Regions from separate parts of the Homo sapiens genome. Here regions 1, 2, 4 and 5 are each linked to region 3. The links come from fine-mapping of genetic effects on gene expression. A gene starts in region 3. Each other region holds a variant in brackets. All regions are shown on one strand. Distances are from middle to middle.

What was found. PIP is the estimated chance that this variant, and not a neighbour inherited with it, causes the effect.
Region 1: its variant is fine-mapped to the expression of PITRM1 in testis (GTEx, PIP 0.98).
Region 2: its variant is fine-mapped to the expression of PITRM1 in subcutaneous fat (GTEx, PIP 0.94).
Region 4: its variant is fine-mapped to the expression of PITRM1 in whole blood (TOPMed, PIP above 0.99).
Region 5: its variant is fine-mapped to the expression of PITRM1 in monocytes (TOPMed, PIP above 0.99). The same link has a PIP of 0.9 or more in CD4 T cells.

Annotation. Positions count from the first base shown.
Region 1 is chr10:3,132,207-3,136,302 of GRCh38, reverse strand. It overlaps PFKP (phosphofructokinase, platelet), which reads right to left. Exons shown (of 22, transcript NM_002627.5): 18 at 3,862-3,923; 19 at 2,989-3,100; 20 at 1,721-1,820; 21 at 465-567. It overlaps SNORD142 (small nucleolar RNA, C/D box 142), which reads right to left and starts at 2,199; the gene lies at 2,005-2,199. RefSeq lists an enhancer at 1-320. The variant G/A (reference allele first, on the strand shown) is at 2,106.
Region 2 is chr10:3,925,022-3,929,141 of GRCh38, reverse strand. The region is part of intron 1 of LINC02660 (long intergenic non-protein coding RNA 2660); the gene reads right to left. Among named protein-coding and RNA genes, the nearest start is that of LINC02660, 15 kb to the right of the region's middle. The variant G/A (reference allele first, on the strand shown) is at 1,769.
Region 3 is chr10:3,171,137-3,175,256 of GRCh38, reverse strand. It overlaps PITRM1 (pitrilysin metallopeptidase 1), which reads left to right and starts at 2,475. Exons shown (of 27, transcript NM_014889.4): 1 at 2,475-2,540. The coding sequence starts at 2,485. RefSeq lists an enhancer at 925-1,462 and silencers at 1,661-1,820, 2,111-2,950.
Region 4 is chr10:3,143,005-3,147,124 of GRCh38, reverse strand. It overlaps PITRM1 (pitrilysin metallopeptidase 1), which reads left to right. Exons shown (of 27, transcript NM_014889.4): 21 at 1,409-1,529; 22 at 2,759-2,833; 23 at 3,624-3,736. It overlaps PITRM1-AS1 (PITRM1 antisense RNA 1), which reads right to left. Exons shown (of 4, transcript NR_038284.1): 2 at 4,037-4,120; 3 at 3,139-3,269; 4 at 1-2,154. Among named protein-coding and RNA genes, the nearest start is that of PITRM1-AS1, 3.5 kb to the right of the region's middle. The variant T/A (reference allele first, on the strand shown) is at 2,266.
Region 5 is chr10:3,137,730-3,141,849 of GRCh38, reverse strand. PITRM1 (pitrilysin metallopeptidase 1) reads left to right here. Exons shown (of 27, transcript NM_014889.4): 24 at 1,038-1,163; 25 at 2,801-2,946; 26 at 3,513-3,615; 27 at 3,726-4,120. The coding sequence ends at 3,819. PITRM1-AS1 (PITRM1 antisense RNA 1) reads right to left here and starts at 249. Exons shown (of 4, transcript NR_038284.1): 1 at 81-249. RefSeq lists enhancers at 1-7, 8-509. The variant C/G (reference allele first, on the strand shown) is at 2,465.

The DNA.
Region 1 (4,096 bases), 39 kb after region 3:
CAAATGAAACCATTGTTTAAAATTATTCCCGAAGACCCAGTGGTGGAGTCTCGCTCTGTCGCCAGGCTTGAGTACAGTGGTGCAATCTCAGCTCACTGCAACCTCTGCCTCCCGGGTTCAAGCGATTTCTCCTGCCTCAGCCTCCTGAGTAGCTGGGACTACAGGTGTGCATCACCATGCCTGGCTCATTTTTGTATTTTTAGTAGAGATGGGGTTTCACCATATGAGCCAGGTTGGTCTCGATCTCTTGACCTTGTGATCCACCTGTCTCGGCCTCCCACAGTGCTGGGATTATAGGCATGAGCCACCGCGCCCAGCCAAGACCTAGTATTTTTTTAACTGAGCTTCAGAAAAGCCAGTTCCTCAAACCCCTGAATGAGTTGCCGACAGCAACAGCAATGGCCATTCCCCTGTCCCGTACTCACATTGGGGTCTTATTGCCTCAGGGAACCCAGCCAACTTACTCAAAATCCGTTTGCTTCTTCAGCTCTGCCACAGGTTGAAAAATAACGTTTCTTTTGCTTATTCCCAGCACACAAATGGAATCATCGGTGGTAAATTTTTTTCCTATAAAAGATTTTAAAAAAGATTAATAACACCCTGTCAACATGGGCAGGTGGGGGAGCAGAATCACGGGGCGAGATGAGAACTGAGATTCCTCAGAACCATGCTGAACCCGGCCTGGAAGCCCAGTGAGACTGAGAACAGCCGCGCAGTGGGGCCAGCACCTGGCCTCGTGCAGCTCTGCTCCTGTGGGACTGCCCCGAGGGCTTCCTGGAAAGCAGCTTTTGTTTTTTCCTCCCAGTGGAGAGAATTTTTCACTAAATAGTGGAATAGGGAAATTAGCTTAAATTACAGGACACTAATTTATGCTCACACATACACACACTGAGAGGCAAAAAGCATCCATAGCTAAATTAGCAAAAGAAAATCGCTGTAGAAAGAATCAAAGCCAAAGTCAGTTCTTCAAAAAGACAAACCCATTGAAACTATTCACATCACTGGTTTTTATAGACTGTCATTTTTCTAAGTTGGACACTGGCAGTGATAGTGGTTTGCCGGAATAAAAGCACACATCTGCTATGACTGATTAAGAAAGCTGAGGGGGGTGGGGGTGAGAAAGATGCTGGCACAAAGAGCCACTCAGGAATGAGTGGGGAACAGCCATGTTGGAGCCATTAACAAGAGTATTATAAAAAAGTCATGTTTCTTGAAACTTCAGTTTAAAGATTTCTTAGAATATGTAACTTACAGAACTGATTTAAGGAAGAACATGCACAGTTCTACGAACATGCAGTTCTACAAACATGAACAATTCATTCAGCAGTCAGATCTTCCTCAAAACTGGAAGTTTTGATGGATAGTCACAAGGAGGTTGTCCTAGCAAACATTCAAAAAATAGAAGGCCCCACTTAAACTGTGAGGGGAAATTGCTGGCCAACGTTCAGGATCTCTAGAGCAAAAAGCCTGCACAAAAGAACTGCAGACTGCATCTAGCAGTGATAAAAGAGAACATGTCATACCCAAGCTGATCTTATCCCAGGAATCCAAGGTTGGTTAAATAGCAACACTCAGAGATCAGGAGTAAAACATCACGTGCAGCTCAGTACTGAACTGAAGAAGGAACCAGCACCCTACTTCTCCCCGATAGGACAGCATTTTCACCAAGGCAGGACGGCCTGCATCACGAGGCTGTGGCCTCCCTCCCCAGACCCCTTACCTCTGCCCCGGGCCTCCTTGAGTTTTGCAGTGATCCACTCCATAGCTCTGGCAGAGATTTTGGTTCCAAAGTTTCTATCAAATGGAGAGGGTGCCCCACCCTGTTGGTGGTTAGAGTTATATGAAATACCAGTTATACAGTAACACTTTGCTGTTAAATAGAAATGACAATTTCTATTTTGCAGAATTCATGTTTTTATTTCTAGGTCCTTATAGTTGGAACAGAACAAAACCTGTGATTCCCGTAGCCTGAACTTGGCCTGTTAAGAAAAAGTATCAAGTGTTCCCCCCGCTCAGTAAGATGAGGATTTTAATAAACCGAACAAGTCAACTAACAATCTTCATTATTTTAAAATCTTAAATCAGGATTTCATGAACTCATCTGA[G/A]CTGGGGATGGGTCACAGCTTTAATCTGATAACCGTTGTGGATTCTTTAAGAAGATCACACATATGCCTACTATTTCATCATCATTGCAGGGGATTCATGGGCTCTGGCTTAAAAGTATAAGAATAGGAGGTGGTGAGGAAGGAGTGTGTGCAAGTTAGGAGGCCTGGACCCTGTGTCCCAGGCTCAGCTCATAACACGTGTGTGCCTGTGTGCAGCTCATTCCAGGTCATTCTGACTTGGGGTGTCAAGTATACTACATGTCTGATAATCCATTTTAAATCTTAGGGAAGCTCCAGTTTTTAACTTGATGAAGTGTTTAATTTGAATAAGCATTTCCAAGTAATGGGGGTATCACTGTTTTCATGAAAGCTGACAGTTCCCTTAAAATCCCCATTACTCAAACCTCACCAACAAAAGAATCCTAAAGCTGGTGATGTTTGGCATCACTTAAAAGTTCAGATGTTTTGGCTGGGCACAGTGGCTCAGGCCTGTATTCCCACCACTTTGGGAGGCTGAGGTGGGTGAATCATCTGAGGTCAGGAGTTTGAGACCAGCCTGGCCAACGTGGTGAAACCCCATCTCTACTAAAAATACAAAAATTAGCTGGGTGTGGTGGTGGGTGCCTATACTGCCATCTCCTCGGGAGGCTGATGCAGGAGAATCACTTGAACCTGGAAGGTGGAGGTTGCAGTGAGCCAAGCTTGTACCACTGCACTCCAGCCTGGGCAACAGAGCAAGACTCTGTCTCAAAAAGTTCAGATGTTTTTTATCATCTTGGAATTTACTTATACATTTTTCCCCACAATGGCTAAAATAAGACACTAATCTTTTAAAAGTCACATGACAGGGGCTTTGTGGCCCCTCATGCAGTCTCGGGCCTACCTGCTGCATGTGACCCAGCACGTTCTTCCTGCAGTCAAACACGCCTTTGCCCTCTTCTGAATACAGCTGGTAAATGAAGTCGGTGGTGTAGTTTTCACTGCAGCTCTCATTTCTGAAACGAGCGAGAAGGAGTCACTTTGTTTAGCGTGCAGTGGGCACGTGGCTCCCTGCTTGGGGAGATGGCCCTGGGAGGCTGGACTCCCGCATCCCCCAACCCTATGGTGATTCTACATCAACACCAGTCCCTCCAGTTCACGGTTTTGCTTTCTGCAGTTTGTTACCCATGGTCCAGTGGTCAACTGAGGCCCACAAATATTAAATGGAAAATTCCAGAAATAAATATGTAAGTTTTAAATTGCACACCATTCTGAGTAGCGTGATGAAATCTCGTGCTCTCTTGCTGTCCCACCCAGAACGTCAATCATCCCTGTGCCCTGCATCTCCATGCTGTCTGTGCCTCCTGCCCGAGTCACTCAGTAGCCACCTTGGTTATCAGATGGAAGCAACCTCGTGTATACAGGGGGCGGGTACTATCCCCAGGTTCAGACACCCACTGCAGTCTTGGGACACAGTCCCTGAGGCTAAGAGGGATGACTGTATTTCCTTCTTTCTTCATAAACATCAGGTGCTAATTAGGGAAATGATTGCAAGATATCAAAGAATAAGAGACTATAAAGCAAAAATATTAGTTGTCTAAATGCAGGCAAGCCTTTAGAGCAATGCACCACAGCTGTCTTCTGCACCTGCTCAGTGTGTGTAGTGCACTCTAGCGGCAAAGAAATGACCACTCATCCAGCCCAAGTCACAGACTAGAATCTAAGAACCAGGGTGTGGCGGTGAGGGTAAGATCAGCCCCTGGTCTCTCTCTCTCACCTGAGCACAAGGCCTCTCTGGATGGTGGTCTTCATTTTCTCCGTCAGGTGCTCCACGTTGGACTGGAAGAGAGTATTTTGTTAATCAGACAATAAACTTCTACTAAGTACCTACTGTGTGCCAGGCACTGCAGGCTGGGAAGTGCCAACCAAGTGTGGCAGTGAGCGTGGCCAAGGAGGCTGCAGCTCTCGCGGCTTGGGTCTTGGGGAGCCTCCTCCCAGATAGGGAGGACACG
Region 2 (4,120 bases), 750 kb before region 3:
TTCACCATGTTAGCCAGGGTGGTCTCGATCTCCTGACCTCGTGATCCGCCTGCCTCGGCCTCCCAAAGTGCTGGGATTACAGGCGTGAGCCACTGCGCCTGGCCCAGACATGATTTTTAAAATGAGCCTTCTACTCTTTCTCACCCCTCCCTTTCTCCTTCTCCTGGTCCCAGCTCATTCCACCCAACAAGTTGACTTTCTATCAAACAGTCTGTCACTTGAAAGGAGGCAGGATTTCTATATTTACTTGGGAATCTACAGACTATAAAAAGCCCTTTATTTTGACTGGTAGCAAGCCATTTGCTATATTTATAATGCATGATTGCCATTTTTCTGCAGGTATTCTTTTCTCCATTTAGAGTAACATCCTTCAGAACTCCAGTGTCTTATCTTTGTGTCATCCAGAGCGCCACGTAGAGTGACTGTGAAGTCAACAGTTGGGTAAATTGCATTCATCAATTTTAAATGTCATTGTGATATATCTTTTCAATATGTGTAATAACATATAAAATACACATGGAATCTAGTTACAGTCAAGTTGACAGTCTCTCATGGGGACAATTTAAGTATTAAAAGCTATAAATATATATTTACTAGTCCTTTATTTTGCTGTTGTGTATTTTGGTAGTTTCTCTTACAATTCTCTTAATAACTGCTTTAGTCTCTGAGCATAATAAGTGTCATATATTTATTTATATATTTGTATTTTTTCATTGTAAACTCAGTTAAAACATAAAGGAATCAGGGCAAAAGCAAGACAAAACTTTTTCTGTTGAAATGCAGATAAGCAGATAACATAAACCCAGACCAAAATGCACCTTATATGCTATTATGTGCACAGTTAATGCTGCTTGCACGGGATGTGGAACAGCCAGGCACTGGGCCAGCTCTATGAAGATGGGTGGTTATCACCAGATATTGCTGGACTTAAAATAGTATAGTGTGTCTGTGTGTGTGTGCGTGCGTGTGTGTAAGTGTGCACATACAGGCTGAGGTATGTGTTTATTTTTCTGGAAAAATAATCAAGAAAAAGCAACAATTTTGGGGGAAGAATGTGATGAAGGGAAAAGTTTATTTTATAGCTGTCTAGTCTGCTTAAATGTTCTATGTGAAGGTCACTTATTGTTAACCATGAAAAAAAGTCAGTCCAAGTTATCTTGGTGCAATCAAAATCACACTTCTTTACACGCCTCTGTATTTTAAAATCAACTAAAATTGATGGTGTTTTGGGGGGTTTTGTTTTGAGACAGAGTCTTGCTCTGTCTCCCAGGGTGGAGTGCAGTGGCACCATCTTGGCTCATTGAAGCTTCTACCTCCTGGGTTCAAATGATTCTTCTGCCTCCGCCTCCCGAGTAGCTGGGACTACAAGCGAGTGCCACTACGCCTAGCTAATTTTTGTATTTTTAGTAGAGATGGGTTTTTGCCATGTTGGCCAGGCTGGTCTTGAACTCCTAACCTCAAGTGATCCTCTTGCCTTGGCCTCCTGAAGTGCTGGGATTTCAGGAGTGGGTCACCACACCCAGCCCTAAAAACAAGTTATTTTAAAATAACTAAGTTATGACCTATTTGGGGCTTTGATTAATAGATAAATATATGAATGTAGAGAATGTACTTAAATCTTACACATTCTTTTAACACCTTTCCTGTACTTTATAGGTTGGCATCGCTATTTCCACTGACTTGCTGAATATTCTGTAGCATGAAGTAGAGAGTTTCTTTGCAGATCTTCTATGCTGGTGCGGGATGTTCTACATTCTTCACCAGGTGC[G/A]GGCAGTGGGCAGGCCACCATGTGCTCTAAGCACCCAGCATAACTGAGCCAGCCCTGCTGCTGAAGGGAATCCCAGGAGACAAAAATCACCTGCTTTGGTTGCTGGCACCTTCATCACCCAGGAATTTTACAGTTAGTGTGCTAACTGCTCCGAAGCTTATCATCATCTTTACAGTCACCTACCACTTTACAGATGCGGGAAGGAAAATACGAGCTCAGACACACCGCCAGGTCAGGGAGGCGTCTTTGCTGACTGCCGTCAGAGGGCCCAGCTGCAGCTTTGCCAGGTGAATTTTCTTCTCACCCACAAGAATTTTAAAAAGCAAAGACGGAGATGCCCACATCTAGAAAAAGAGCTTGTTGACATGCACTCAGGGTTTTCGTGAGGAATGAATCGTGTTGGGAAATCCCTGCCTACTGGCCACCTTATCTATGCTCCCAGCACTGAAAACTCTGAGAATTTTCTTCCGCTGCCAATTCCAAGAATGTAGCACATTGCATCACGTCCATTCTCAAAACGAAGGCCCACCCGTGGGAATAATTTAGAATATGCTGCAATGGGAGGGGGGCGAGTTTGGGAGGGTAACGGTTTTGGGAAACTGTTATTTCTTTGAAAAAGATGATGTGATGTTTCAGGCAATTTTGGCAATGCATTACTATTTCAAATCTCTTTCCACCTAAATGTGCCAATGGTGCCTCAGACATATTAATTCTGGAGATCTTCTTTGTTAAAAGGAAGGTAAGCCATCCTATCTCGTTACCAAAACCACAAAGTTTTGGGATAAAAGGAGTGATGTAAAACAGCCCCAATGCCTCCTCTCCTAACAGCAGGGGTCATATCCACCTCCTCGTTATGATCGCTTTAAAATTACAGAATTCATGCAAAGTGCACAGAACAGCAGGTGGCCAATGCCTCTTTGTCTACCACAAAGAACAACACCAACAGTAACAGCCTCTTAGTGGTATGATCTGAGATTTGAAAGAGCTTGGGAAAAAAGACAGTTGTGGAGGGAATTGTGGATGATTCAAAGTGTCTTGCTCTACCACATTCCTCTCCATGTATCCATATTTATAATTATTCCGTGACACATTTCAGATGGTTTTCATTCATGAAGCTCTCTGCAATGTACACCACGTACGTAAGAATTATAAAGGAAGGAGAAGAACTCAGACTGGAGAGTATATATACATATATAATAAGATATATATGGCCAAGGCGGGCAGATCACAAGGTCAGGAGATCGAGACCATCCTGGCTAATATGGTGAAACCCTGTCTCTACTAAAAATACAAAAAAAAAAAAAAAATTAGCCAGGCATGGTGGCATTGCACCTGTAGTCCCAGCTACTCGGGAGGCTCAGGCAGGAGAATCACTTGAACCCGTGAGGTGGAGGTTTCAGTGAGTGGAGACCAGGTCAGTGCACTCCAGCCTGGGCAACAGAGTGAGACTCTGTCTCAAAAAAAAAAAGATATATAAAAATCATATATTTGTAATATATAATAATATAAAATAAGGAGATAAGTAATTCAAGTTGATAAAATGCATTTATTCCATTAAAAATATTATTATAATTAGGATTCAGTTTTTACTGATATCTCCATTGCTGGCACTAAAACAAACCTCTGGACCAGTATAAACTAATTCAGAATTATTTTTTGCTTGCTTCCTCAAAAGATGTCTTTTCCTCTTTCTGCATTGCAGCTGCCTGTCTCTGGGTTCCTGGCTCCTGTGTGGTGACAACCCCTTCCATCCCATGCCTCCCGGTGAATCCCAGCCTCTCCAGTTCTTAGTCGGCCTGGCCCTCGAACTCTGACTGCAAGCCTGTGGCTCTCCTGGATTCCACATTCTAGGACCTGGAGTTTCTTCACATTTCACTGGCTGAACCCCACAGCACTCCGTCCCCTTTTCATTGCTATTGCTCTACTGTTTCCTGTGGTCCCTGATTATGTTGGGCCTCTCAGAGGCTTCGGGTAGACTTTTCTACTAGACTGTGAGGCTGTGGCCATCTGCATGTACAACACAGGAAGGCCTTGTGGTGATTACAGTCATGAAAACTTTTGTCCCAGCACATAGGCTGAAGGATAATTTGACATGAGGGTGAGATTTGACTCCATTTAATTGGACATTAAATGAAACACATAGCATGCCTTTATTTGGTATTTAAATTATATGTTAGAGAAAATACTTTACATGCTGGGTGCAGTGGCTGACGTCTGTAATCCCAGCACCTTGTGAGGCCAAGGCGGGTGGATCAGTTGAGGTCAGGAGTTTGAGACCAGCCTGGTCAACATGGTGAAACTCCGTCTCCAATAAAAATACAAAACTGTCCAGGTGTGGTGGCACACACTTGT
Region 3 (4,120 bases):
TTTTCTCACAATTTGTCCACAAGGAAATTCCTTGTGGACCAAGGACAGGCAGAACTCAAAGTCATCCTCCTGAGGCTCACGGGTGAGACAAACGCATATCTGATCACTTCCTCTGCCCCATTGTTTCACTGAGTCAGACTAAGGCATCAGTGACTGCTTCTCTACCCTCCTCTCAAATATAAGTTGTGTGTTCAGTGAAAGTCTAATCAGAGACTCAAAATAATGCAACCATTTCCTTCTTATCTACCTACAACCTGGAAGCCCCCACTTGGAGTTGCCCTGCCATTTCGGACCCAACCAATCTACATTTTACATATATTGGTGGATGTCTCATATCTCCCTAAAATGTATAAAAGCAAGTTGTGGCCAGGCGCGGTGGCTCACGCCTGTAATCCCAATACTTTGGGAGGCGGAGGCGGGCAAATCACGAGGTCAGGAGTTCGAGACCAGCCTGACCAATATGGTGAAACCCCGTCTCTACTAAAAATACAAAAAAAAAAAAAATTAGCTGGGCATAGTGGTGGGTGCCTGTAATCCCAGCTACTCGGGAAGCTGAAGCAGGAGACTCGCTTGAGCCCGGGAGGCTGAGGTTGCACTGAGCCAAGATTGCGCCACTGCAATCCAGCCAGGGCGACAGAGTGAGACACGGTATTAAAAAAAAAAAAAAAAAAAAGTTGTGCCACGACCATGTTGGCCACATGTCATCTGGACCTCCTGGGGCTGTGTCATGGGCATGCCCTTAACCTTGGCAAAATTAACTTTCTAAATTGATTGAGACCTAGATCGGATATTTTGTGTGCACACACCCAAATTCTCCCTAGAAGACGGGTGATGCGCAGAGCGTGTTTGTGTCTGTCGCTCCTATTATTGCCTGTGTTCTGGTTCCTTTGGGCTCTTCAATAAGGAGGTACGTGTTTACCTGCAGCCCAGAACTGGCTGCCCTATGGAGAGTTTAGGGTAGACACGTTGGGACTTTTTCCCACAGTATTACCTTCCACATTGCTTCCAAAGTTTTAGCTTGTTCAAGCCGACTGCAGCCATCTACTTACCATTTAATTTTTAATTTTTTTTTTCAGAGCCCATTAGGAGACAGAGGGAGATTTGAGCCTGTTTGTATTCGTGATACAAGGGGAAAAAAAGAGGGAGAAGGTGAAGGGAGGAAGGAAGAGAGGCTCTGAGAAACCCGGAAGGTCAGACTTGGTGCGGACTTCCTCCAAGGGCTACCCCACCCTCTCCAAGCGTGGCTAATCCCAGGGCCCCTTCTGGCCCACAGTGCAGAACCACCCACTCCTACGGGGGCCTCCTTCAGCCTCTCTGGGGGTTCCCAGAAGGGCCCTTGGGCACTTGGGCAATGTCAGGGGGCTCAGGTGCATCTTCCTAGACACGAAACGAAGAGGAAAGCGGAGGCAGCAGCGGGGGCCACAGGCTCCCATGCAGCAGCTCGGAGCTGTGCTGTGCTTCGCTGGCGGCCATCCGTGATACGTGTGACACCGTGGGGCCCTGGCCCTGGGACCTGCCATGCAGCCTTGAGATCTCATCCAAGAAGCCCCCAGACCCCAAGGTTCAGGCCTGGCGGGGCAGCAGAACGCCTTTGGAGCTCAGCTCAGCCCTACAAACAGGACCAACGCCCACACCAAGGCCAGAGAGGGCTACCAAGTTTCACCTGGCCCAGCTTCCGGCAGCCCCCAACCAGGCCACTACCCTCACCTGAACACCGCGGTCCATCACCAAGCCCCACCCACTTCTGCCAGCCCTGCCCCCACAAGGACCCACCTCTCGCATGCAAGCCCCGCCCCCAAGGCCCAGCTCACCTGCAGCCCCGCCCCACCAGGCTCCACCCCATCGCCTGCAAGCCCCATCCCCAAGGCCCAGCTCACTTGCATCCCCGCCCACTAGGCTCCACCCTGTCACCTGCAAGCCCCGCCCCCAAGGCTCAGCTCACTTGCAATCCCCTCTCCCACTGGTCTCCACTCCTCACCTGCAAAGAGCCACCCCTCGCTAAGCCCCTCCCATCACTTGCACAGCCCCACCCAACACAGCACGCCATTCCAGGAGCCCCTCTTTTCACCAGCGCAGCCCCGCCCTTCACCAGGCCCCACTTCATCTGCATACACACGCCTCTCGCCACGCCCCACTTCTCGCCTGCCCACTTCCCCCTCCTATCATCTGTCCACATCCTGCTGCTGGCCGAACCCCGCCCCTTTCGGCAAGACGGCCCCGCCCCTTTCTACCCGTACCACGCCCCTCGCCTTGCCCGCCTCCTTCGGCACGTCGGCCCCGCCCCTCCCGCCCATCTCCGTCCGCACCGCCCTCCCGCCCGTCCCAGAGCAGTGGAGGCCTACCCTTTTCACCTACAGCCTATCGCAGAGGACGTCGCTGTTCGCGTTGACCAATAGGAGTGGTAGCTGTCACGGCAAGCCCCGCCCCGCGCCCTGCGTCGGGTTAAGAGGGGGTTCCTCGCCAGCCAGGTGCTCGTCATGCGCAATGTGGCGCTGCGGCGGGCGGCAGGGCCTGTGTGTGCTGAGGCGGCTGAGCGGCGGGTGAGACGCTGCGACGGGAGGCGCTCGGCGCGCTGGTACCCGGGAGGGGAGGGTCCAGGGCAGGCCGGAGGCGTAGGGGTCCTCGTCCCTGCGCCCGGGGCTGGCAGCTCCCCAAGCTGTGGGCGTCCCGCACCCCGAGCCCTTCCTGGAGCTCCCGCATCCGAGGCTCCGAGGCCGGAGGACCTCGGAGCTCCTTCCTACTCCCAGGGGCGATGCCCCGGGCTGGGGGCCGGGCCTGCCCGCGGCGCTCCCGGCGGGGCCCTCCATTAGCGTGGGCTTTAACGGGGGTAGTAAATGGGGTCGGCATTTGCGGTTCTCGCTGACAGCTTTGCTCCTAGTTCATTTTTGTTGGGAGGCCGAGTCCTTAAGAGACCCGAGGCGCCCACAGCCCATACTTAAAGTCTCGCTGTGTTCAGAGAACTGACGCCTCCCGGAATTGAACTGTTTTGTTTTTTTAATGACTCAATTTATGGGGAAAAAAATGACGAAGCAGTTTAGTGTTCATGGTAATCCACGAGCCCGTGTTTAATATAAGGTAATAGTTCAGCGCTGCCGGCCCAGGCCGGGAGGCACGGGGCGTCCGTGGCATGAGTTCGGCCTGGCCTTACCGCTCAGGAGTTTCCTATCATGTCCTTGATAAGTAACTTCTTAAAACGCTTCTGTCCCATAATTCTGAAATTTGCTAAATCAGTAAGCAAATGTTGGTTATAGCATATCTTCATAATATTGCCAGTGACTGAATAGGTTTTTTCTTCCTGTACATATTATCTTTAAAATAAATATTTCGGTGGGATACATTAATGTAGAAAATCCCATACGACATATAATACAATTGGAGAGAATAATAATTACGTGTTTTTTAAGAGCAGGGATCTTGCTCTGTTTCCCAGGCTGGTTTGATCCCCCTCCTCAGCCTCTCGCATTGCGGGGTTACAGGTGTGAGCCATCTCATTCAGGTGAGAATAATTATTAGAAATAGGTTGGGCGCGGTGGCTCACACCTGTAATCCCAGCATGTTGGGAGGCCAAGGCGGGCAGACCACTTGAGGTCAGGAGTTCAAGACCAGCCTGGCCGACATGGTGAAACTGTCTCTACTAAAAATACAAAAATTAGCTGGGCGTAGTAGTGAGCACTTGTAGTCCCAGCCACTCAGGAGGCTGAGACAGAATTGCTTGAACCCGGGAGGTGGAGGTTGCAGTGAGTCGAGATTGCACCGCTGCACTCCAGCCTGGGCAACAGAGTGAGATCTGTCTCAAAAAAGAAAATTAGTGTCCCTGTGACCAAGTTGAAGATTCCCCTAACTGCTCGTAACTCTCTCCCTCCCTCTTAGATTATCACGGTCATAACATACAGAAATGTCCTTGCTTTTTTTTTTTTTAATATTTTACCATTTTTATGCGTTCTGACAATGTCTTGTTACCTATTTGAATAATACCTGTTTAGGATAATACTGTATCATGTGTATCTTTTGTTTCACGTTATGTGACCCATATCTTTGTTACATGCCACTGTAGGCCCTTATATTGGTAAGGTTTTTTTTTTTTTTTTTTTTTTTTTTTTTTTTTTTTTAATTGAACGAT
Region 4 (4,120 bases), 28 kb after region 3:
ATTTTATGATTCATTCTATTAAGTATAGTTTTTAGGTATTTCTTACTTGTAGAAACTTCAAGATAGAGTGCTTGGTAAAGGTTATAGAATTTATTGTAAATGTCAAGTGTTCTAACAAACTAAGAAAATATTTTAAGCCTATTAAAAGTTGTAGGAGATGGGGAAGAAAGCAGGCTAATTTTGTGCTAGAAGTGCAAATAGATTGAGGGCAAGTAGTTATATTGCTTCCAAAAGCACATGGTCCGTAACTGAGGTATCTGTAAAGGTGAGCTTGCTGAAGACCAGAGTAAAAGTGCAGTTTCTTATAAAATTATGTGATGCTTTGAGGAAACATCTGGCAGCTCAGTCCTATACCTTCAGTTGGCCTTATGCCCTCAGATGTGTGAGCATGAATAAAGTTTAAAAATGATTGTTTATTTTCAGCATCTTATTGTCAGTGACATTGATGTATTCATCAGTACTTAACAAGAAAATGTTTGCTGAAGTCACTTGTCCTTCTTCACACAGAGTCCTGATGCCTTTCCCCAGTCATGTCCTGAGAATCCCTGGCAGATTCTACAGGGCGGTCTGTGGGTGGCCAGAGGTGAAGCCTGGCGATCAGGGTCTCTTGGCATTGGGCTCAGGCAGGCCTGGCTTCTGGTGCCGCCGGGTCAGCACTCACACTCGCTCCCAGGCGGTCCTGGGCAGCTGACCCACTTGCGTCTTCTGCTTCCTCCTCCATAAAACCTTCCTTTGCAGGTTTATCGTAAGGAATAAAAGAAAGAATATCTGCAAGGCAGCATACATGCCTGGGATATAGTTAGTATTAATATAATGGTACCTGCTGTTACTTTAACTAGAATAAGTTCAGGATTTACAGCTGAAAGGAAAAAATATACACTCTGTCAATATACTGTAGAGTTCAAGTAGCTTTTATATGATAGTAGTATTTGCAATTCTGTGGAATTTGGAAGAGTTCTATTTTCATGTAACTTTGAGAGCATGGTATTTTTTTGCAGTTTATAATGTTCTGCTTTAACAACCAGTTCACATTTTCAAATTGATGACTTCTGGACAGTAATTTTAAAAGTTGTCAGTGTTTTGATAGTGTAATTCCGAAGGCACGGTTAGCAGATCTTAATAGTCTCTGTATTTTCTTTGCTCTTCAGAAGAACTAGAGTTTAGAGTCACAGGCTCCGCGTATGGACGGCTTCATTAGCTGCCACATTGAACTGTGCGGAAATCTCTTGATAACCTGAAGCACTGAAGAGCAGGGAGGCGGCCGTGGCATTTCCACATTTGGCTGCTGTTTAACACTCTGAACAGTATTTTCTATAAAAACAACATTATTGAGTTATACAAAATGTGATGAATTACTAAAACTGTTTTTTCTAACAGTGGTTTTATGTATACATAATTTTTCAAACAGGTGTTCAGTGAATGCGACTCCTCAGCAGATGCCTCAGACAGAAAAAGCGGTCGAAGACTTCCTTAGAAGCATCGGTCGGAGTAAAAAGGAACGGAGGCCTGTGCGCCCACACACGGTCGAGGTATGCACTGGTGGTGCTGGCGCCCGGTGAGCGCCTGGTGGGTGCCAGAGCAGCTCTCATGTTTTACACGCATTAACTCAATTCTCAGAGCAGTCCAGCATGTGGGGGTTCATATCCCCCGTACGCAGATGAAGAAACTGAGGTTCAGGAGGATTAAGTATCTTGTGCAGTGTTGGGCCAGTTAAGTGAGTTCAGACCCTGCGGTGTGGCCTTAGATCCCGCGCTCACTTCTGTGCCTTGCAGTGAGTAGTCTGATAGGAAAACAGACTTTGGCTGGAATACGCTGGCAGAGGAATGGCCCAAACCGTAGCCTGAAGGCTGTTCACTGCTGTTTCTTTGACTCATGAATCCATGGATTTGACATGGAACAGTGATGTCGGTGATAACTAACTTAGTAAATTTGATTAACTTAGAGAGTTGTAGTCTAGTTCATGGATGTCAGTAGAGAAGCCGTGCTGCTCCGTGGAGGAGGTTGACGCTCATGTCTTCTCCGTTGGTGTCTGCGTATCCCTGGTTCAATTCTGGATGTGGTCTCTCTGTTGGCCCCTGGGAGTGGAGCCTTTGGGAGGTGGCCTCCTGCTGCTCCAGGCCCCTCTGCCTGCAACCCTTTCACCTTAAATGTCCTCTTGATTTGACAGATTAATGACAAGAAAGTGCAGAAAGAAAGGTTAAAATATTTTCTTTGTACCATATAACAAGGCTACCTTTTCCTTGACTGTCTGAAAATTTATTTTAA[T/A]ATTTTCTTAATTTCTTTTACTCACTTTATTTCTTTTTTTAGTTTTTGTTATTTTGAGACAGGGTCTGTCTCTGGCACTCGGGCTGGAGTGCAGTGGTGCCATTACAACTAGCTGTAGCCGTGACCTCCTGGGCTCAAGTGATCCTCCAATCTCAGCCTCCCAAGTAGCTGGGGCTACAGGTGTGCACCACCATGCCCAGCTAATTTTTAAAAATTTTTTGTTGAGATGGGAGCTCACTACATTGCCCAGGCTGGTCTCAGACTCCTGGACCCAAGCAATCCTCCCACCTCAGCCTCCAAAGTGCTGGCATTATAGGCATGAGCCACTCTGCCCAGCCTATTTTTATTTTTTTTAAGCGTTTATTATTTAAAACACTTACACCTGCCCTAACACTTGTTATTAGCTGTGTGAATTTTATAAACTCTGTTACTTCTTATATATTTCAAGTGAGTTCTGGATTTTTCTCTTTTCTCTTGGAAACTTGATTTTCAGAAACCTGTGCCCAGCAGCTCTGGTGGAGATGCCCACGTTCCCCATGGCTCCCAGGTCATTAGGAAGCTGGTCATGGTAAGAACCACAGCCCATCCGGGTTGCCAGCGGGTGGGTGCTTCCCTGCATGGCTGTGTCTGCCACTGATGTTCGAATGTTCCTCCGTCCGCCTGTCTGTGGGGCTGGCGTGTCCCTAGAGTTGCGAGTTCAGTGCATCCTTTGTCACTGCCACCCTGAGCCTTTTCTCTCTCAGACAGTACTGAGTGAAGGCCCTGGTGGGGGTGTGTCCTCCTGTGCCGAGGAGGGCCCTGGTATGGGGTGCGTCTTCCCTGTGCCCAGGAAGAGGGCTACTGCTCTGGGTGGTCTCCTCCCGGGCAACTCACCCTTCTTTGAACGTAGCTCCCGAGCTGAGTCGATGCCAGTGGAGCGGTCTGACAGATCCTTTCCGCGACTCAGCCTGGTGCTGATGCTGTTTGGTTTGGTTCCTTGTGGAGTAGAGTGATTTAACACATTCCTATGATATAATATGATATGAAATATAAATATGTAACTGTGATATAAACGGCGTAGAATGAAATGTTTTTAATTGAACAGTATACGTTAAGGCATCACGTCAAGATTGGAGGACTTCATGTCAGTTTTACAGTGAGAAATTGTGTGGAGTGACGGAACTGCAGTGCCTTGCTCTCGCGCCCCAGCACCTGGCTGCAGAGTGTCACGGAGATGGGACCCCTGAGATGGCTCCAGTCCCAGTGCCGTGGGCAGTGCGTGGGAGCACAGCCGCCTCTGACCCCTGAGTGGGTCCAGTCCCAGTGCCGTGGGCGGTGCATGGCAGCACAGCCGCCTCTGACCATACCGTGTCCCTCAGGAACCCACCTTCAAGCCCTGGCAGATGAAGACTCACTTCCTGATGCCCTTCCCGGTGAATTACGTGGGTGAATGCATCCGAACTGTCCCCTACACGGACCCAGATCATGCCAGGTAGGAGGGTGTAGGTCGGGACCTCTCAGGCCTGAGCCTTACGGAAGAGCTTGTCAAGGCTGTTCGAGTTCACAGGGCGTGTTTTAGCACAGGAAAAGTCTGTGCTGACTCTGAGTGTTGGACCTGGGGCTGTGTGAGTCTACGAGTGCTCCTCTTTAACCAGCAGTCTTTGTGAACAGAGACCCAGTTTTAGAGCCAGTCATTTTTGTAAACAATTTCTATTATTGAGGAGTCCTATGAACAATACAGATACCTATGACCTTAAACACAGACTGCTTTCAACATGCCCCATGTACTCACCTCATCTCTAGGTAAAAATCGAATGAATTTAGGCTGAGATTTCTGATAAACATGGTAGGTTAAGCCTTCATGAGGACAGATGCG
Region 5 (4,120 bases), 33 kb after region 3:
TGGAGGACCCACACGAGATGGTCGTGACTTCTCCCACCACAGCCCCTGGGAACACGCCCACTCCTTCCTTGATTTCCCACCTGGCCTATTTGACTCCCTTCATCCACTTTAGGAAAAGGCCTGTCTGTGGAAGCGGCGACCTGGGGCTGATCTCACCACGGGCGTCTTCAAGGAGCCTGTGTCTGTGCTGCAGACCCTCCCATCATTGTCTGCCCCGCCTTCTGTCGGAGGTGGATGTGTTCTAGAATCAGCTTGAATGTGATGTTACCGTTCACAGTGGAAGGCAGAGGAAATTGGCCCTGTTCCTAGAAATGTGCTTTATCAGAGAGTGTGTGTTTTCTTAAGGGATTCTTATAAAACTCACTTCAGTTTCCTTTCTTTCCATATTCTGATGTGAGACATTTAAATAAATGTTCATTTGCTCATTTGCCTTTATAATAGAAATAACCTCTTTCTACTTCACGAGATTTTAAAAATGCCACATGTGCATTGGAACAAGTTAAGCAGTGTGGTGCTGGAAGTGTTAAGATTCCCTCCCCACCACCTCTCCCTTCAACCCTGTAATCTAAGCCAACTGTTTGAAAATTGTGCTTCCTTGTGCTTTTTAGTTTTGGTTAATTGAAAAGAAAATCTCATGCCTGTAAGCTCAGCACTTTGAAGGCAGGAGGATCACTTGAAGCCAGGTGTTTGAGACCAGCCTGGGCAACAAAGCTAGACCCTGCCTCTACAAAAACTGTAAAAATAGTCAGGCGTGGTGGCACACACCTGTAGGCCCAGCTACTCAGGAGGCTGTTGTGGGAGGATCCCTTGAGCCCAGGAGTTCAAAGCTGCAGTGAGCTGTGATTGCACTAATGCACTCCAGCCTGGCGACAGAGCGAGACCCCATCTCTTAAAAAACAAGACCAAAATATGGGACCATAATTTATGCAGCATTATTTTACAACTCGATTTTCATTTTCACTTAATCCAACAATTACTTCATTGTCTATGCTTTTTTATCAGCCACGGTATTAACTTGCATTTTTTAATCATTTCAGTCTTAAAATCCTTGCACGTTTGATGACTGCCAAATTCTTGCATACAGAAATTCGAGAAAAAGGCGGTGCTTATGGTGGAGGCGCAAAACTCAGCCACAATGGGATTTTCACCCTTTACTCTTACAGGTGAGTTTTGCTCTAGTTCACACATTGGGATGCACACGTCGTTTTAGTCTTCTACTCATGATTATCAGTGTCATTTTCTTCTACTGCAGTGAATTTTAGACAAAAGTTGTTCTGTGTGCTTCTTTTCACTCCTTGGGCACTTAGCCACACCCAGCAATGTCCTTTCTGGCGCGAGGATTAGGGCCAGCAGCCGAAACAGGAAGCATTCTGCCTTCAGTAAACCCTGGCTTCAGCCAGCATATTTTGGCAGAACACGGTAGTGCCTCCATCCGTGGGTTTGCCTTCCATGGTTTATTACCCACAGTCCCCCTCGGTCTGAAAATATTAAATGGAAAATTCCAGACATAAACACTTCCTAAGTTTTAAATTGTACACCATTCTTCTAAGCAGTGGGATGAAAGCTGACGCTGTCTACGGTACCTGCCTGTTGGTCACCCAGTAGCCGTCTAGGTATCAGATACGCTGTGGGTATCCAAGAGCTTCTGTTCACAGAACCCTTGTTTTACTTAATAGTAGCCCATCAGCGTAACTTTTATTACAGTATAATTGTTGTATTTTGTTAATATCTTGCTGCACCTAATCTATAAACTTTATCATAGGTATAGGAAAAAAACATAGTATCCATAGTGGCTGTCTGAGGTTGCAGCCCTGCCGTGGGGGTCCTGAAACACAGGCCCCAGGTGAGGGGGCTGATACAGCCTGAGAGCGTTCTTAGCTCATTTCAGTTGGAGGTGCCTGATGTGGATGCAGTTCTGTTAGCTTTCATAAACATAACACCGTTACTGTAAAGCAATATTCTTGATTTTCTATGGCTTTGCTGCCTAAGAGAACATGTATTCCAACAGTTTTTAAGAAGGAGCCAGCCGGCCGCAGTGGCAAGTGCCTGTGGTCCTAGCTACAGGAGGCTAAGGCGGGAGGATCCCTTGAGCCTGGGGAGGTTGAAACTGCAGTGAGCAGATTGCGCCACTGCACACCAGCCTGGGCGACAGTGAGACCCTGTCCCGTGGATGCATAGCTAGATTAGGTAGGTAGGCAGGCATGTAGGTAGATACGTAGGTAGCCATTGCCACTCTGATGAGTTCTCCCCCTTGCTGTGCTGGAAGCCATGCTTCTAGACAAGGATGGGGAAGCAGCTCACAGCCGCCCCTCTGCAGCTCAGGGTGAAGGGAGGGCTGGGCTCTTTGCATTTACACGAAGGGAAGTCTGGATTGGCCCCCTCAGGCTGATTCCTGTACTACCCTGGGTGTGTCTTCAGGGAGATGAAAGGAAAACCTTTGTTTGCTTAATTTTTCCATGTAAGT[C/G]TTTGTAATTTCCCTGTAATCCTGACCTGCCCCTACCCTCCACTGACTTTCCTCTCCTGATGAGGTCACAGAGAAGTGTATTTAAATAATCTAGGGAGGACTTTGTGCAGACAGACCTTGTCTAAGAGGGAGAACATGTTGAAAGGCTTATGTGATCAGATTTAAATTTCCATTGAGAGTAATTGAGCGATTTGTCAGTGGGCTGTTTGGACTAAATCAGATATAAAATAGAGCTGTTAACCCATAGAAGATGTTGAACTGTTAAGTCGACAGAGGTTTGTCATAAACTTGTCCACTGGTAAAATGCTTGCCCGTTTATTTCTCTGGGTTTCCTAGGGACCCAAATACAATAGAGACGCTCCAGTCTTTTGGGAAGGCTGTCGACTGGGCTAAGTCTGGAAAATTCACACAGCAAGACATCGACGAAGCCAAACTTTCTGTCTTCTCAACCGTAGATGCTCCTGTCGCTCCTTCAGACAAAGGTATTTTGAGTATAACAGTGAGAATCTCAACCCACAGCCTCACAGATGACGTTGCTGTTTTCCAAGTTCCCGGCATGCATGGGCAGGAGCACTAGCTTCTGGTGCCTCCATCCTTGCTTGTGATACGATTTCCACGTCTGACACCCTAAACACGCTTCCTGACATCCGGGCGAGAAGAGTGCATCCTGTCATTTGTTTTACTGACCTGAGACCCAGTGGGGCCAACCCATGGCAGTGTCCGGGCTCTTTAGGGTGGAAGGAGGACGTGGGCACGGCCCGGGCATGGCCACGTTACTCTCTGGAGCCGCTTTTGCTCACAGCATCATCAGCCTCACGCGGCGCTGACTGCATCCCTGCTGCAGAAGCAGGCGTGGGTAGGGGTCAGCGTGGCACGTGGGAGCTGGAGGTCGGGGTGTGATCTCTGGGTTGTTAGACACATCCCTGTGGTTGAAACATGCACGTGAAATGACAGTGAGATGCCTGTGTCCCCTCCGGGACATGAGTGCACAGCCCACAACGCGAGCTCCCGGGCAGCGGCTCCATCGTGCCTGTGGATTGTCTTCTAGGAATGGACCACTTCTTGTACGGCCTCTCGGATGAGATGAAGCAGGCCCACAGAGAGCAGCTCTTTGCTGTCAGCCACGACAAGCTCCTGGCCGTGAGCGATAGGTGAGTGGGGAGCGGGGGAGACAGCGTCTGGGACTGGAAGCCCTCGTGCTGACTCTAACAGCGCTCACGCAGAAGCCAGTCCTTGCTGACCACGCCTGCCTTCCTCTCAGATACCTCGGCACTGGGAAGAGCACACACGGCCTGGCCATCCTCGGACCCGAGAACCCGAAAATTGCCAAGGACCCATCCTGGATCATCCAATGAGCAGCCGTGGCGCTCGACTGCACAGGAGCCCGAGACAATACACCTCCGAGCTGAATATGAAAAGTCAGAAATGCTACTGCTTTTTCCAAGAATATTATGTCATTGAGTGTCGCCAAAGCCCTTGACTGGCGAGTCAAAAACTCAGATCTATCTTAAGAGTGACCAGGAAGAGGTTCATTGAAATAATCATGCATGAAGCGCCAAAGATGCACCATGTAGAATTTTCACTTTGTACTGGCAGGCTCGTTTTACCTCATTCTAGAATATTTAAGAATCTAAAAATAAAGGGCAACTCTGACTT